Linked DNA regions of Homo sapiens: region 2 is linked to region 1. Evidence: fine-mapped expression QTL. Tissue or cell type: esophagus muscle. Region 1 holds a variant in brackets; the other region holds the start of a gene. All regions are shown on one strand. Distances are from middle to middle. Region 1 has its middle 170 kb from the start of ST6GAL2. Region 2 holds the start of ST6GAL2 (ST6 beta-galactoside alpha-2,6-sialyltransferase 2).

What was found.
Region 2: ST6GAL2 starts here. The variant in region 1 is fine-mapped to the expression of ST6GAL2 in esophagus muscle (GTEx, PIP 0.97).

The regions. Positions count from the first base shown.
Region 1 is chr2:107,053,208-107,061,606 of GRCh38, reverse strand. No RefSeq gene overlaps it. Among named protein-coding and RNA genes, the nearest start is that of ST6GAL2, 170 kb to the right of the region's middle. The variant T/A (reference allele first, on the strand shown) is at 5,331.
Region 2 is chr2:106,883,000-106,891,398 of GRCh38, reverse strand. ST6GAL2 (ST6 beta-galactoside alpha-2,6-sialyltransferase 2) reads left to right here and starts at 5,232. Exons shown (of 6, transcript NM_001142351.2): 1 at 5,232-5,306. LOC124907864 (a long non-coding RNA gene) reads right to left here and starts at 4,866. Exons shown (of 2, transcript XR_007087169.1): 1 at 4,292-4,866.

The DNA of each region.
Region 1 (8,399 bases):
AATGCAATCCACATAGGATCAGCAGTGCCTTTCTGTCTACCCGGCAGAGGAGAGCAGAAAGCTGAAGAGTTCACCTGTTACCTCCTCAGAAAATCTTTGTCAGAGAATTCCCAAGGGGTATAAGAGCACATTCTGAAAACACCGACCAAAAGGATGCCTCCAGGTTCACAAGTCTAGCTATACGAACCAAAATTCAGTGAGTCTGTCTTCAGGATTATCCTAAGTTTCTGTCTTGAATGATTTTTTTCTTGCAATAAAGCTATATTCCATATGCAAAAATAAATATATGCATATTTAGAGTTAGATATATAGTTTTGTTATTGAATAAAAATTATTTGAAGTATGAAAAAAATCTATTTCCATATTCAAGGCTCCTCACCATTTGGCTACAACCCCCGTGTCCATTTTTTCTCACACCTGAGCCTATCTAAGTATTGATGCTCTATCCACTTACGGGTAGTGAAGGCCCAGGGGCACTGCCACAACCTCCTCACTCTTGTGCCCCATCCGAGACACAGTTCATTTCCCACATTGGTGCCTCTGCACTTTCCTGAACCTTCTTGCCGGCCTCTAGCTTCACCAGCTTCATGACTTGATTGATCCCTCCTATTATAGCAGACATGGTAGCCGAGACCACTCAGAGTTCAATCACCACATCCACTTGTATTTGATCATCAGACATCAGTCCGGCTATACTTAACCTCCAAGTCTGTTTTCTCAACTAAATTTTAAGTTAGACAAGAGCATGTCATACACTTCTTTGCAATTCCCATGGAGTTTGCTTGTAATGCATCTTCAATAAAAATATCATGACTGTTACAAAATTCTGAAAGCCAGAGGGATGGTGAAAATCATCTAAATTAGTGCTTCTTAACCTCTAGTGAGCAACCCTCCTAGCTTAAATCAGGAAGAATTAGAAACCCTGAACAGACGAATAACAAGCAGCAAGATTGAAATGGTAATTAAAAAAAAACTACCACCACCACCAACAACAACAAAGCCCAGGACCAGACAGATTCACAGCTGGATTCTATCAGACATTCAAAGAAGAATTGGTATCAATCCTATTGAAACTATCCCACAAAATAGAAAAAGAGGGAATCCTCTCTAAATCATTCTATGAAGCCAGTATCACTTTAATACCAAAACTAGGAAAGGACATAACAGAAAAAGAAAACTACAGGCCAATATCCCTGATGAACACAGATGCAAAAATCCTAATAAAATACTAGCTAATTGAATCCAACAATATATCAAAAAGATAATCCACCACGATCAAATGGGTTTTATAGCTGGGATACAGGTATGGTTTAACATATGCAAGTCAATACATGTGATACACCACATACACAGAATTAAAAACAAAAATCACACGATCATCTCAATAGATGCAGAAAAAGCATTTGACAAATTACAGCATCTCTTTGTGATTAAAACTCTCAGCAAAATCAGCATACAAGGGACATACCTCAATGTAAAAAAAGCCATCTATGACAAACCCACAGCCAACACAATACTGAAAGGGGAAAAGTTGAAAGGATTGTCTCTGAGAACTGGAACAAGACAAGGATGCCCACTCTCACCACTTCTATTCAACATAGTACTGGAAGTTCTAGCCAGAGCAATCAGACAAGAGAAATAAATAAAGGGCATTCAAATTGGTAAAAAGGAAGTCAAACTGTCACTGTTTGCTGATGATATGATTGTATACCTAGAAAATCCTAAAGACTCCTCCAGAAAGCACCTAGAACTGATGAATGAATTTAGTAAAATTTCAGAATGCAAAATTACGTTATACAAATCAGTAGCTCTGCTATACATCAGCAGCAGCCAAGCTGGGAATCAAATCAAGAACTCAACCCCTTTTACAATAGCTGAAAAAAAAATTAAAATACTTAGGAATATACCTAACCAAGAAGGTGAAAGTCCTCTACAAGGAAAACTACAAAACACTGCTGAAAGAAATCATAGATGATACAAATAAATGAAAACACAACCCATGCTTATGAATAGGTAGAATCAATATTGTGAAAATGACCACACTGCCAAAAGCAGTCTACAAATTCAATGCAATTCCCATCAAGATATCACCATCGATCTTCACAGAACTAGAAAAGACAATTCTAAAATTCATATGGAACCAAAAAGGAACCTCTATAGCCCAAGCGAGACTAAGCAAAAAGAACAAATCTGGTGGCATCATCACATTACCTGCTTTCAAACTATACTATATGGCCATATTCACCAAAACAGCATGGTACTGATATAAAAATAGGCACATAGACCAATGGAGCAGAATAGAGTACCCAGAAATAAACCTAAATACACACAGCCAACAGACCTTCAACAAAGCAAACAAAAACATTAAGTGGGAAAAGGACACCCTATTCAACAAACGGTGCTGGAATAATTGGCAAGCCACATATAGCAGAATGAAACTGGATCCTCATTTCACAGCTTGTAAAAAAACCAACTCAAGATGGGTCAAGGACATAAATCTAAGACCCAAAACTGTAAAAATTCTAGAAAATAACATCAGAAAAATCCTTCTAGACATTGGCTTAGGCAAAGACTTCATGACCAAGAACACAAAAACAAATGCAACAAAAACAAAGATAAATAGTTGGGACTTAATTAAACTGAAGAGCTTCTGCACAGCAAAAGGAAGAGTCAGCAGAGTAAACAGACAACCCACAGAGTGGGAGAAAATCTTCACAATCTATACATTTAACAAAAGACTAATACCCAGAATCTACAAGGAACTCAAATAAATTAGCAAGAAAAAATAAAACAATCCCACCAAAAAGTGGTCTAAGAACATGAATAGACAGTTCTCAAAAGAAGATATACAAATGGCCAATAAACATATGAAAAAATGCTCAACATCACTAATGATCAAGGAAATGCAAATCAAAACCACAGTGCCATACCACCTTTCTCCTGCGAGAATGGCCACAATCAAAAAAAATAAATAAATAGATGTTGGCATGGATGCAGTAAAAAGGGAATGCTTCAACACTGCTAGTGGGAATGTAACCTAGTACAACCACAATGGAAAACAGTGTGGAGATTTTTTAAAGAACCAAACGTAGAACTACTATTTGAATCAGCAATCTCACTACTGGGTATCTACCCAAAGGAAAAGAGGTCATTATATGAAAAAGATGCTTGCACATACATGTTTATAGGAGCACAATTTGCAATTGCAAAAATCTGAAACCAGCCCAAATGCCCATCAATCAATGAGTAAAGAAATTTTATATATCTATATACACATACACACACACACACACACACACACACACACACACATATACACACAATGGAATACTACTCAGCCACAAAAAGGAACGAATTAATGGCATTCGCAGCAAAAATAAAGAGGGAATACTATTCAACCATAAAAAAATGCCTTTTGTAGCAACTTGGATGGAGCTTGAGGCTATTACTCCAAGTGAAGTAACTCAGGAACAGAAAACCAAACATCGTATCTTCTCACTTACAAGGAGAGCTAAGCTATGAGAATACAAAGTCATAAGAATAATACAATGGACTTTGGGGACTCAGAGGAAAGGGTGGCAGGGGGGTGAGGGACAAAAGACTACAAATTGGGTTCAGTGTATACTGCTCGGGTGATAAGCGCACCAAAATCTCACAAACCACCACTGAAGAACTTATTCATGTAACCAAATACCACCTGTTCCCCCAAAACCTATAGAAATAAAACATTTTTAAAAATTTTAATGCAATAACTAGATAATAATGAGAATAATGTATTACATACATGACAGTAAAAGATTTAGATTACGTAGTTTCAAAATAAAATGTAAACTGTGTGTATGTTTGTGTATTGTGAATTAAATAAATTATGCTTTCTGGGAATAATAAAAATAGTATGTATAAAAAAACAAATAAGAGGAGAGAGACTACTCAGTAGATGGTAATGAAAAATATGGAAAAAAAGAATGCTCTACCTCAACTGAACAACTACCCCACCCAATACAATGTGAATCCTAGGAGAGTAAACACATAAAAATGAAATGTAAAATTAATAGAACAAAATGTAGGAGAATATCACTGTGAGTTAGAAAAATTTTAAAAACACAAATATAATAATGCAAAAAAAAGTGCTTCAAAAGAAATAAATTTTAAGGCAAACTTTCTCCTCTTTTATAATGGGGAGACAACAGCATCTTAAGTTGACTGGAACACCAAGGAATTATTTTGAAATATAAAAATCACCACAAAAAAGTTTTAAATCAGGAACACCAAGGTATTATTTTGAAATATAAAAAAGTACCACAAAAAAGTTTTAAACAATCACAAAATTAGTAAACTTTGATTACTGTGGAATGTGGAAATTGAATTCTGGTAATATCCAGAAAGTGTTTCTTTTCATTTGATAACTTTGAATATCCTTTGAATATTGTTACAGTGTACACCAATCACTTCTAAAAGACTTTCCTCCTCCCTCCTTGTGCATAGAAACTTTATCGAGCAGGAGAGAAGGTCATTATGAGTGGAATCTAAAATCAGATCTAGAATCAGGGAGCTTTACTTGTTTTAATCACCTAGAAAAAAAATGCTGTAATAAAAGGTTTTCTTTTTATGCAAAATAGAAAGTTGAATATTCTGTTTATTGATCAGATCAAGACTAATCCGTGTTGGGAAGTCTCTAAGTTAATGAGATCATTTAAGGAAATTTATTTTTGGTCAACCTTTTTTAGAAAGGCCATCACCAAAAATGCTCCCGCCATCCCATCCCCTTTCCAGACATCAATAAGTACCAAGTGGAAAGAGGGAAGGTGGGAAAAAGAGCACTTCTTTTATTTGAATTGTTTCCTTTTATGGGGCTTTGCAGAAAATCCCATGTAACACTTGCATTTCCATCTCCCTGCCCACCACTTTCTTACATTCCTATTTAAAATCTTCCTCCTGGCCAGATAAGTTTCATGTATTCCCAGTATCATCTTGAAATTGTGTTATCTTTAAGAAAGGTGTAAATGTGTAAACCGAAAGGGTGTGAGTATTGATTTAAGTTATTAAGTCTCTACAATTTCTCAGTTACAGAATATTCTTCGAAATCCAAATCCTTAAATTGAGAATTAGACCTAAATAAGTTTATGCCTACAGACTAAGCATCTACTCACTGTGTATAAATTATTTCATTTAATATTTTAATTGATTTATAGAAAAAGAAAGCCCATGGAAATTAATACTTAATGACTATACCTGTGGAACTAAGTCTTCAGGAACCCTCTCGTTCTCTATCTTAGGAATATTTTGTTATGCACACTTTACTATACAGAGACTACTATATGGCTTTAGAA[T/A]TCATATAATGCCCTAAAAGACAGTATTAGTGGATTTCAGGTTACATAACACAGTAGCCCTATCCAGTGCCAACTAAACTTAGCATTATAAAAGAATACCAAACAGGGAGCATAAGAGCTTGCAAGAAAAAGCTTTTTGAAAGTAGCCAGAAGTGATCATCAATGCCCAAAACACAATGTATGTCTTGATCTTGAGAGATGAGCACTGACACACATGTAAATCACACCAGCACAGGTAACTCCCCCATCTGGGAGTTGTCAGCTTAAATACATTGCTAGTTTTGTAGCACTTGGATAGATCAGTATCCTGTTTTTGTTATTTAATGCAGCTAACAGTAAATTACATGTGACCAAATAAACAATCTGGACAACCAGGAATGGCATGCTTAGGAACGTTCTCAGATGAAATCAATAACTAGCAACCCAGCAAGACTCTCATTTATTTCCAGGGGATATATTCCTTCACTTGATATTTCAAAAATGTTGACTAAGGATCAAATTGTTCTTCAGCATCCTGGAGCCACAGGAAGGATTATAGTGCAGCTCTTCAATTCCTTCACAATAAATAACTGGTATTTCAAAATATACATTCTTCCAGACAACTGCACCAGTAAATATAAAACACTGCAGTCAGACTCTGTTCCTAAATAAGATGTTTATGTTATATTCATGTTTGCAATACTTTTACCACAAGAAGTACTACTGTTAAGTGCGTATAATTTTTCTACAATAGTGAACAACAGAGTAAAGTTCCATTAATGTACATGATAGATATATTCCAAGTAAATTATATTTAGTGGAACATTAGAGATTGACGTTCATTGGTTATGTTTTATATCTACTCTCCCCCACCTCTGCCCCATATACTACATGCCTATGGTACTACTTCGGTCATCATGAAAATTTAAAATTTCCCCAGAAATTTAAAAACTACCATCTAGAACTGGGAGAAAGATTAGATAATGATAAGCCAGTTGAGGACCACTTGCCAAAAGTAGTCTATTTACAGCTTTTACAAAGTGGATTTAATTATTATTTCAATTAGCTTTGGGGAGAAACAAACTATAATTTATTAAAAGCCTTTTCATGAATTAAAAAAAGTCAATAAAAAGCCTTTAAAGTTTAGAAAACCAAAAACTACAAAACAAAACAAAAACACAAAGAGTAGACCTCCACTCATGCATTGTCTAGCCCCTATCACAAATCTCCATCGACAATCACTTTAAAAAAAAATGTTTGACACATAATAATTGTACACATTCATGAATACATACCGATGGTGTAACACACGTATACAAATCAGCTGAGGGTAATTGGTATGCCCATCAATTCAAGCATTTATCATTTCTTTGTGTTGGGACCATTCAATGTCCTCTTTCTAGCTATTTGAAACTTAACCTCTGTATTTAGCTACTTATTCTGGTCATTGCATCCATATTTTCAAGTGTTAAGTTTATCATGTTCTTTTACATTTATTAATTTTAAATATTTTATTGAGTTCATAACATGATAAATATTTATTTAGACCTTCACCATACCCTTCTTTAACTTTTCAGATAGTTAACCACTATTTTTAGTTAAATTAATAAAAGTTATTGAGCAATTTTAGTTAAGTCAATAAACAACATTCCTTCACTTATTCCTATATAAATACTGTTCACTATAGAACCTAGTCAGATACAGCTTTTTGTTTTCCCTTGAATTAATAATTGCCTCTTTTTCATTTGCATGTTTCCATTAATCCACTTACTTTTTCTGGATGTTCTATCATCTACTATCTCATCTAATCTATAAAAACTAAATTATCCAGGGGTCCTCTTGTGGTCCTCTCTCCTGCTAAAGGCTGGACTAGCTGCTGTCTAGATCTGTTGCAGTCCAGTGAATTCTCTCCAATCCTCTTTATTTAAAGAAAAATTTCTGGGATTCTTTGTTTTCTACTTTTTACAATTATTATTAAACATTTGTTTAGCTAAAAGAATCCTATGGCTTTCTAAGGAAGGATACAGAAAGGTAAAATTAGAGGCTTTGCATATCTAAAAAAATTATTAATCTGCTTTTTCAGTTAAGTGATAGTTAAGCTAGGTAGCAAATTCTGCTGAAAATTTTTTTTATTTTCCCAACATTGGAAGTTATTCTTCAATTTATTGCTGTTTGGGGTATTCTTATTCCTTTTTTAATTGTCAAGGTTTTTTCAGAATCTTTTCTATTTCTGGTAATTTAAAATATTATCATGATTAGGCATATTGTTCTTTTTTCCCCTAGTGATTCCATTAAATTGATTAGCAACTAATCCTTCATAATCGGAAGAAAAAATTCTATTTAACAAAAGCTTCTAAGGCTATGTATTTTTCCCTGAGTGTAACTTTGACTATATTCCGTATGTGTTCAAATGAAATAGTCTCCTTTTAGATTTTCTGCTTGTTCAGTTATTATTGTTTATTTTGTTTTTTATTTTACTTTAAATTCTGGGTTACATGTGCTGAACGTGTAGGCTTGTTACGTAGGTATACGTGTGCCATGGTGGTTTGCTGCATCTATCAACTCACCATCTAGGTTTTAAGCCTCGCATGCATTTGTCCTAATGCTCTCCCTCCCCTTGCCCCCACCCCCCCTACAGGGCTTGGTATGTGACGTTCCCCTCCCTGTGTCCACATGCTCTCATTGTTCAGCTCCCACTTATGAATGAGAACATGCATTGTTTAGTTTTCTGTTCCTGTGTTAGTTTGCTGAGGATGATGGTTTCCAGCTTCATCCATGACCCTGCAAAGGACATGAACTCATTCTTTTTTATGGCTGCATACATTCCATGGTATATATGCGCCACATTTTCTTTATCTAGTCTATTATTCGTGGGCATTTGGGTTGGTTTCAAGTCTTTGCTATTGTAAATAGTGCTGCAATAAACACACATGTGCATGTTTCTTTATTGTAGAATGATTTATATTCCTTTGGGTATATACCCAGTAATGAGATTGCTGGGTCAAATGGTATTTCTAGTTCTAGATCCTTGAGGAATCACCACACTGACTTCCACAATGGTTGAACTACTTTACACTCCCACCAACAGTG
Region 2 (8,399 bases), 170 kb after region 1:
AAAAGTTAAATGTGAAAGAAATTAAAATAAAACCTGTTATGAGGATTAAATGAGTTAATGCTTACAAAGGATTTAGAATATAGACCTTAAAATATTAATGATTAGATGTAATTATTATTACCATAGAATTAAGAAGTGGCAAGGCTACCTCTATCTGGCCTATACACCCTTATCCTTAATTCCCTCATCTCTGCACTTCATCATTCAGAGTCTGGAGAAATCCAATGAGATAATGGATAGAAAAGTCTTTACATAAACTGTGAAGTGCTGTGGTTTGGTGAATGTCTGTAAGCTTGGATATGAACTCAGATTCTTGTGTGCAGCTACCTGATGATGTTTGTCTCTATTGCTGATGAGGTTCTTTGGACTCAGAAAGTTCAAATAACATCACTAAAGGGACAAAGTCAGGACTAAAACCCAGAGATCCAACTTTCAGTTCTGTCTTTTTAATATTGGATAGTGGGCTGCAAGGAGAAGTTTAGGAAAGGATAGTTTCTTTCACATACTGACATGTTTTTCTATTGCTCTGTCTGGTACAGCTCATTGCCAGCTGAGGTCAGGTTGTGGCCCCAGGACCCCGCCTCTGAGGCCAGCCTCTATTTCCTGGACGGCAGCCCACAGACTAGCGCGGGTGTCAGCAAGCCTAAGGGTAACCAGTTGCATTTTGGTTTTATTGTTCCTACTGCAGATACTGAAAATGGCATCATTCCTATATCTGATGCTAAAAAATAATGTTTTTCTCTCCACCTGAAAACACTGACAGAAAGGTAGAAGAAGCTCCTGCTGGCCGAGGATTTTGTCTCCTATACATATGCAAATACCTGAAGCATTTTTTTTCTAATGGTGGTCTATTTCCTTATGAACATTTCCAAAGACAAAGGGAACTACTTTTTTAAAAAAATCTATGGGTTGGCTAGGAAACAAATGTTTCTACCTGATCTTGTCAGTGGATAATGGGTTCCAAAAAGCAAGAATCTGAAATTCTTTTTTTTTTAAATACTGATCGGCCACATGAAAATTCGTTTCACTGATTAAATAGGAGGAGCCCAGATATAGATTTTCCTTTCTGAGGTACTAATTTCTCAAGCAAGGGAAGAAATCAATGTGTTTTTGCAATGCTACAGATGGAAAATCTCAGGTAAATCAGAAAACGAAGGCAACTTGTTTAGAGAAAGTGGTCCTGAAAGTTTCTATCGGTGAGTTTTCCCATCTGTAAAATAATCTATAGTTTTATTGTGAAATTTGAGTGGCATAATGAATGGGAGAAAAATATATTTATATGAACAATAGGTAAGAGAAATAAAATAGCCCAGATTCACCAATGGTGGAGTTAGAAGATATTTATTCTTCATCCCTGTCCCACCTGAATGCTTCTCAGCTGAGTAACTGAGCTTCCTGATTTGGTTGATTGTTCATGATGTGCTTCAAGTTCCTGAAACAGGAAGGAATTGTCCCTGTGAAAGCTCAGCTGGTTAGTTAACACAGGGTGAGAAAAGGAGAATTGAGGAACCCTGAATTTAAAAAAAGAAAGAAAGGAAATTCATATTATTATGAGCAAATGGATAACAGCAAGTGGATTTCTGAATGCTGCCTATCTGTAGGAATAAGTTTATTGTGCTTTGTTGTTATTGATGATTTTGTAAGGAAAATAATATTATAGTGCCAGAGGTACTCAGGAATTCCTCATGAATCTACAGACCAATAAAATAATTAAATAATCTGCTCCTTGTGTCTCTGAGTAATTAAACTAAAGGGTGCCAAAATATTTTATTTACCATTACACTTTGACAGAAGCAATCATCAGCATATAGCTTCCTGTATATAAACTGGCTTTGTGGTTCCTTTGGGAAGCAATAGATTTAAGTCGGTTTAGTGACTGTGTATTTACTACCTTGATCATAAGTAATGAACTCAATCCACTTAAAGTTTTACAACAGTAATTTGCATATTTGCCTTAAGATGGTAGTTTTTCTACTTCTATAAAGTTGACTGTTATTTGGACACTTTTATTTAACTCATTAAAATTTCTTTAAGATATCAACTTTGGCAGTATTTACGCAGAAAGGATAGTAAGTGTATAAGATATATATACACTATAAAAAGTGTACAATTTTTTCTGTTTCAAGGTAAAGTGTTTTAATAATGGCCACTGTCATTTATTAATTACTACAATTTATTAGGTATAACATGTCAGGCACTGGGGGAGATGCTTTTAACACATGCTCTCTACTTACAACAAACCTTGAAGATAGATACTATATAATTTTTTTTTTTTTTTTTTTTTTGAGAGGGAGTCTCTCTCTGTCACCCAGGCTGGAGTGCAGTGGCACCAGCTTGGCTCACTGCAACCTCCGCCTCCCAGGTTCAAGCGATTCTCCTGCCTCAGCCTCTCGAGTAGCTGGGACTACTGGCGCTTGCCACCACGCCCGGTTCATTTTTGTATTTTTAGTAGAGACAGGTTTCAACATTATGGCCAGGCTGGTCTCGAACTCCTGACCTCGTGATCCGCCCGCCTCGGCCTCCCAAAGTACTGGGATTACAGGTGTGAGCCACCGCGCCAGGCTGAAGGTAGGTACTATTACATCCATTATACAGAAGAGAAACAGAAGCCCACAGACTTTGCAACCCCCTCTGCGCCCCTCTACTATTAAGAAGGTGAGTCTTTCTGCAGTATTTCCTTTCTCTATCCCCACCAGCTATGGGTCTCTATCAGGTTGTTTGTTTCTGTTTTGTTTTGGTCACTTTTAACCACACTGTATGTATTTCACATTTATAAAATATAATTTTTCTTTTTTTTTTTTTTTTTTTTTTTTTTTTTTTTGAGACGGAGTCTCGCTCTGTCGCCCAGGCCGGACTGCGGACTGCAGTGGCGCAATCTCGGCTCACTGCAAGCTCCGCTTCCCGGGTTCACGCCATTCTCCTGCCTCAGCCTCCCGAGTAGCTGGGACTACAGGCGCCTGCCACCGCGCCCGGCTAATTTTTTGTATTTTTAGTAGAGACGGGGTTTCACCTTGTTAGCCAGGATGGTCTCGATCTCCTGACCTCATGATCCACCCGCCTCGGCCTCCCAAAGTGCTGGGATTACAGGCGTGAGCCACCGCGCCCGGCCATAATTTTTCTTTTTTTAAAAAATATCTGTGTAACACATTGTTCATTCAGGCAGTTCCGCAGAATTCCATGTGTCAGACATAATTAATACAATTGGGGAAATACTGAGTAAGCGTTTTCGGCCCACACTTTTGTTTGAACACAGTGCATTATACCCACTCGATTTTAGTTTAATTCCCGTGCTGTTTTACATTTCTGTAAACTCTTTGAGGGAGTTCTGGGCGCCCACTGTCTAGCTCAGAGTTCCAGGCTAAGGTAGGCACTAATGAATGCTGAATGAATTGGGTAGCCAGTTAATTGCTTTTTCCCCCCTAAAAAAAAAGTCTAAATTACTTGAATAAAAGTATTTGCGGATTTTTAAATAATACATTTAATGGCAGATCTCTGTCTCCAAAACGTGTGTCCTTCTAGCGACTGAGGGTGTGGGGTGGGGTGAGGGGTGACTAACCAGTCCCCCTGAGATGGGCCCAACCTTAGCAATATTATCCATCTACCTGGGATTCCCCTACACCTGAACAGCTCTTTGGGTCCGCGAGAGAACCAGCGGGGTGGGGCACCCAATGCCAGGAGTGCGCGCGGAGAGACACGCTGAAGTTCACAGGAGAGTATTTACCAGCAAACAAAGGGCGGCGCGGTTTGGGGTCCTAGGACCAGCTGCCGCCGTCTCGAGAAAACGCAAGGGCCGCGGTGACAAGTGGACATTCCGCACGCGACCAGACCGACACTCGATGGGCACCTCCCCGCGGCCCCGCCCGCAGGCTCCAGCTGCCCAGCTCGCAGCCGCCCACTGGCTCCGGAGGCTGCTTCAACCACTTGTCCCGCCGGCTTCTACCCCAAGAACTTTCCGTCCCTCTTGGGGTTGGGGACCGGCAGTGTGGAGGGGCGGGCAGGTGGGGGTCTCCAGGGAGCACCGTCACCGGACTTGGCGAGCTACCCTTCCCAAATGAAAGGTGGCCCGCTCCCAAGTCCATCCCATATCCTTAGAGAAGCTCTGGGAGCGAGGGCCAGGCGGCAGTGCGGAGCCTGGTTGAGCGAGATGAACAAAGGGAGCTAGCGAGCCGGGGAGGATGCTGCGCTCCCCTGCGCCCCACCCAGCCGGCTGCCAGGCGCTGCCAGGCGCGCAGGTAGCCCGGCCTTCCGCGCTGGCGGGGGGAGGTGTTGGACAGGGTACACAAAGACTCACTTCCGCCGGGGCAGGCGCCGGGACTCCCTCCTGGCCGCCCACAGCCTGTGCGCATTCCTGCATTCCTGCCGCCGCCCGGGACCCGAGTGCCCCGGAGGTGTCCAGGCGCGGTGCCAGGCGGGTACTGTGCAGGTAACCTTCGGAAGAACTAGGGCTGGATGGAGGCGGCGGCCGGGGAGAAACACGCCTTTTTAGGCAGCCGTGCTGCCCCGCACCGCCCCACGCAGCCCAAGTCTGCAGTCACTCTCCGCGACAAGCAGAAATCCGCGCGCAGCCAGGGAGCGCCCCGCCTGCGCTCGCCGGCGGGCCGAGCTGCCGGGCCGGGGGCGCGGGGAGGGGGCAGCCCAACTTCCCAGTGCCCGGCTCCCGCCAGCTAGGTGAGCCTGGAGCGGGAAGGATGAAAGGGATCGCGGAGAGGGAGGGGGCTCTGGGGCGAGCGGAGCTCGGGGGCGGGGCGCGGCGCAGCCTCGGTGCGTGGGCCGGGAACCGCCGCCTCTCCCCGGGGCTCGGGGCCGCGGTTCCTCTGGCCGCGGGAGCCGCCGCCGCGCTGCCCGAAACAATGAGGCGTGCAGCGCGGGGCTGAGCGTAGCCTCCCGCCGGCTTTGAGGCCGAGCCACCCGCTGTGCCCCGCCGCCCGCGCTTGCAGCTGCCGCCGGCGCGGAGCAGCGCTGGCCCCGGAGAGGTGATCCCGCAGGCCGCCTGGGACGGGAGCGCGGGGCAGCTCCGAGACCCCACGGTGGCAGGAGGAGGACTCGAGCCTGCGGCAGGACGACTCCCGCCGCGCACTCGCCTTCTGCAGCCCCCAAGTTCCGCGGCGTGAGTCGGGGACCCCGGCCAGGGTCCCAGCTCTAGCGGGCGCCAGCGTGAGTGTGGGAGCGCGTAGCGCGCGCACCCGAGCGGCTGCCGGGGAATAAAATGTGACACGCACGCCTTGGACTCCAGTGCCGCGCTGCCAGGGGGAGCACCGAGCACCACGGTGTCGTGCGCTTCGAGGCGCGGCGTGGGAAGAAGGCTGGTAAGGGAGGGCACTGGGTAAGGGTTGGCGACGCCTTTCTTGGTGGCGCTGCAGCCTCCGCGCTGCTGTGCGCGGAGTTACACTCCGTGTTTAGGAGCGAGACCCGTGTGTGGGGAATGTTGAAGGTGGTTTGGGGAAAAGCAGGAAATTCTGGAGAAGCGAACGGGAGGACGGCTTGCGCTTTGGGGACGGGCGGATACAGTTGTGCCCCTGTGGCTCAGTAAAGGTGATCTTTTATTTTGGCTCTTTTGGCTCTGGAAGGGAGTGAAGATTTTTGTCTTTCTTCAGCCAACCCCCGTACAAAACTGCACTTCTTAAAGGTTAAAGTGTGTTCTGTTCATTTCTGGTTCTCTGTGGCTATAATGTTTGGGGTAGTAGGGATCTTTAGAATCCTAAATACCCGAGTGTTAATTCTTATGTAGTTGGCAGGCGGCAAACTCCGCTTTTGGGTTTACTTTCCGCGGTGTTACGGAGTGGATATTTGATGCATTCTTTTGAGTAGGGAGTGTGACGTCCATCTCATTCGGATTTGCCGGTTCTGTGTTGGGGGACTGAGTGAAGTTAAACTCAATGGCTCCCGCAAGTGCTGCCTTCCAAAGAGCTGAATAGCTGTGTTTGGAGAAGCTGTGCTTTCCAGGAATTTAAATGAGACTTTTTGTGATTGCCTTCCAGGTCTCTCCTCCTAGTACCATATTTGTTTTGTCAGGCTGAACTTTCAAAGCTGTTTTGTAATCTGAGAAGCACTTTTGGGGGGAAAGTAATGCTTGGCTGGATTTTTGTGAACTTATTTTTATTGGACATGCGAAAAATTTGGCGAGAGGCAAACCATATTTGGTTGAAATCATTGTCTTTTGCACCACTGCCGTTCTGACCATAAAGGGGCATGCTGACCCTCCTCGCCGAGGACTGCCTGCTTGGGTGAGGGGGGTCTTTGGTGGGCTGGAAGCACATTTTGTATTTAGAGAACTTTCTGCACACTTGAAAAACCCCATGCTGGTTACTTTGATGCTTCCCTTTTTTGAAATTCTGATCAACATTTTTTGCCAACTTGAAATATAATTTATGACCAAGGAAGAATTCCAATAAAGTGAAGTGCTATATATATATGATGTATATGTATATACATACACATATGTATATATGTGTGTGTGTGTATGTATATATATATATATATATATATATATATGCGCTGCAAATTTAGGGTTAAAACTTTTTTTAAAAGGAAAACTGATGTGTGGCCTTGAACCTGTTTTTACCCACTCTCCTTCCCCCATTATTTTTCTGGAACTGACAACCAAAATTTTTATATACCACTTGAGGAATTTTGTACTAATGCATTAAAAGAAACTGTTGGCAAAGGTGAATGGATATTGTGCTCAAAACTGATGAAAGTCTAAAATAATAGGTGAAGTGCCTTGAATTTTACTGCAAAGTTAAAAAGGCACTCTATCCAATTTTTGCCGCAATAGATACAAATGGTAGCATCTTACATTTTTGCTTGGTGCTGTGAAAGCTTCTGGAGTTTTGAGTTAAATGTCTTGTAGAGATTGTGATAGGAGTCACTGCTTTATATGGAGTACTGAGCTCCACAGTTTAGAGAGGCTTTGGATGGATACTCCTGGAAAGAGTGAGGTCAGAGCAAGGACCAACATTTGGTGAGTTTGCTATGTGGTGCACAGGATCTAGGAAGCAAGGATACAAAATTCAGGATTTTTAGACTAGAGGATTCAAAGTTGAGACAATTTAACATTTGAAAATATGTGAATGATTTATTATGCAGAAGAGGGCAGTTATCTGTGTTGAGTTTCTGATGAGGATAATTAAGAGGGAAAAGGTTTACTCTGTGGGGTGAAGACATAAGTTGAGTCTAGGGAGTTGTGGCCAATCCAGCCAGCAAAGATTAAATAGCGAAGGGACTGCTGAAAAAATTCCTGTACGTGCTTGTTTCTGGAGGTTCCACCCCCCCACCCCCGAGTTTCTCTTCTTTCTGAGATGATTTCAGTGTGTGAGGCTCTGGTCTATTGCTTATACTGATACTGACTGAAATTTTACCCTCCAGGTTTAGAATTTATCCAAGCATTTCTCAAATGATTAAATCTTTTCTGAAAGACAAACTGATTTCTAGGCTTCTGCCACTCCTTCTTAGGTAAATAAATGATAGGTTCCTTTCCAAAAACTTGGAGATATTTGTCCTCTGGGAAGCTCTTAATTAGTTTGCAGATTGCTACCTCATGGGTGAGACTTTGAATAAAAATATCTTATGCATGATAATAAGGACAGTCTTTGTTAATGCATTTGCTCTTTAAATGTATTGTGTTATTCCTGATTGATTGAGTTTTTTCTTTTCCTGGATTTTCTGTAATATGATCTTAAAATTTAATTGCTTAAATTAAATTAAGTACTTAATTCAGCATGCATAAATGTCTAAGGGAATCAGATAGTACCCTCATGGCAGGTGTATGTTAAGCTTTGATTTTCTAAGCATTGAAATCTGAAATCTCATCCCTTAAAAAAAATGGGATGAAATTCCCAAATGACTATAAAAGTAACAATTGCATATAATTATATACTAATTTTGGAAAGTGGAAGGGAAACACAGATGCATATTTGCACAGAAATTTTCAATGTTCTTACACCAATTTTTGATATCAATGCCAAACACTGAATGGGCTGTAGATGACCAGCCACTGTTAGTGGATTACCACATTTTCAGTTTAATATACCTACCATTTTTCCGAAAGCTCTCCTTCCAACTTTTGAGAAATTTCTTTCTAAATGTTATTAAGTACACAATGCGAAGATATCAGTGTTAGAGAAACACGGATTTATTATGCCCCTTACAAAATTTGAAATTTACCCTTGCTTGGTCCCAGCCACCTCCCACCCCTCCCATTGAATTGATAGGGGAACAGTTGCAATTCAAAATACTTGGCATCTACCTAGTCCACAGGTGAAATACATTTAAAGGGGATGAAGTATGACCTGGGCAGTCCTAAGGCTTTGCAGGAGTTGGTGATCTGGTCCAGCTCCAGCATTGGTCCTAGCCCTGGTGAAAGCAGGGTCCCAGCAGTTGTGACTATTATCTTCACTTTG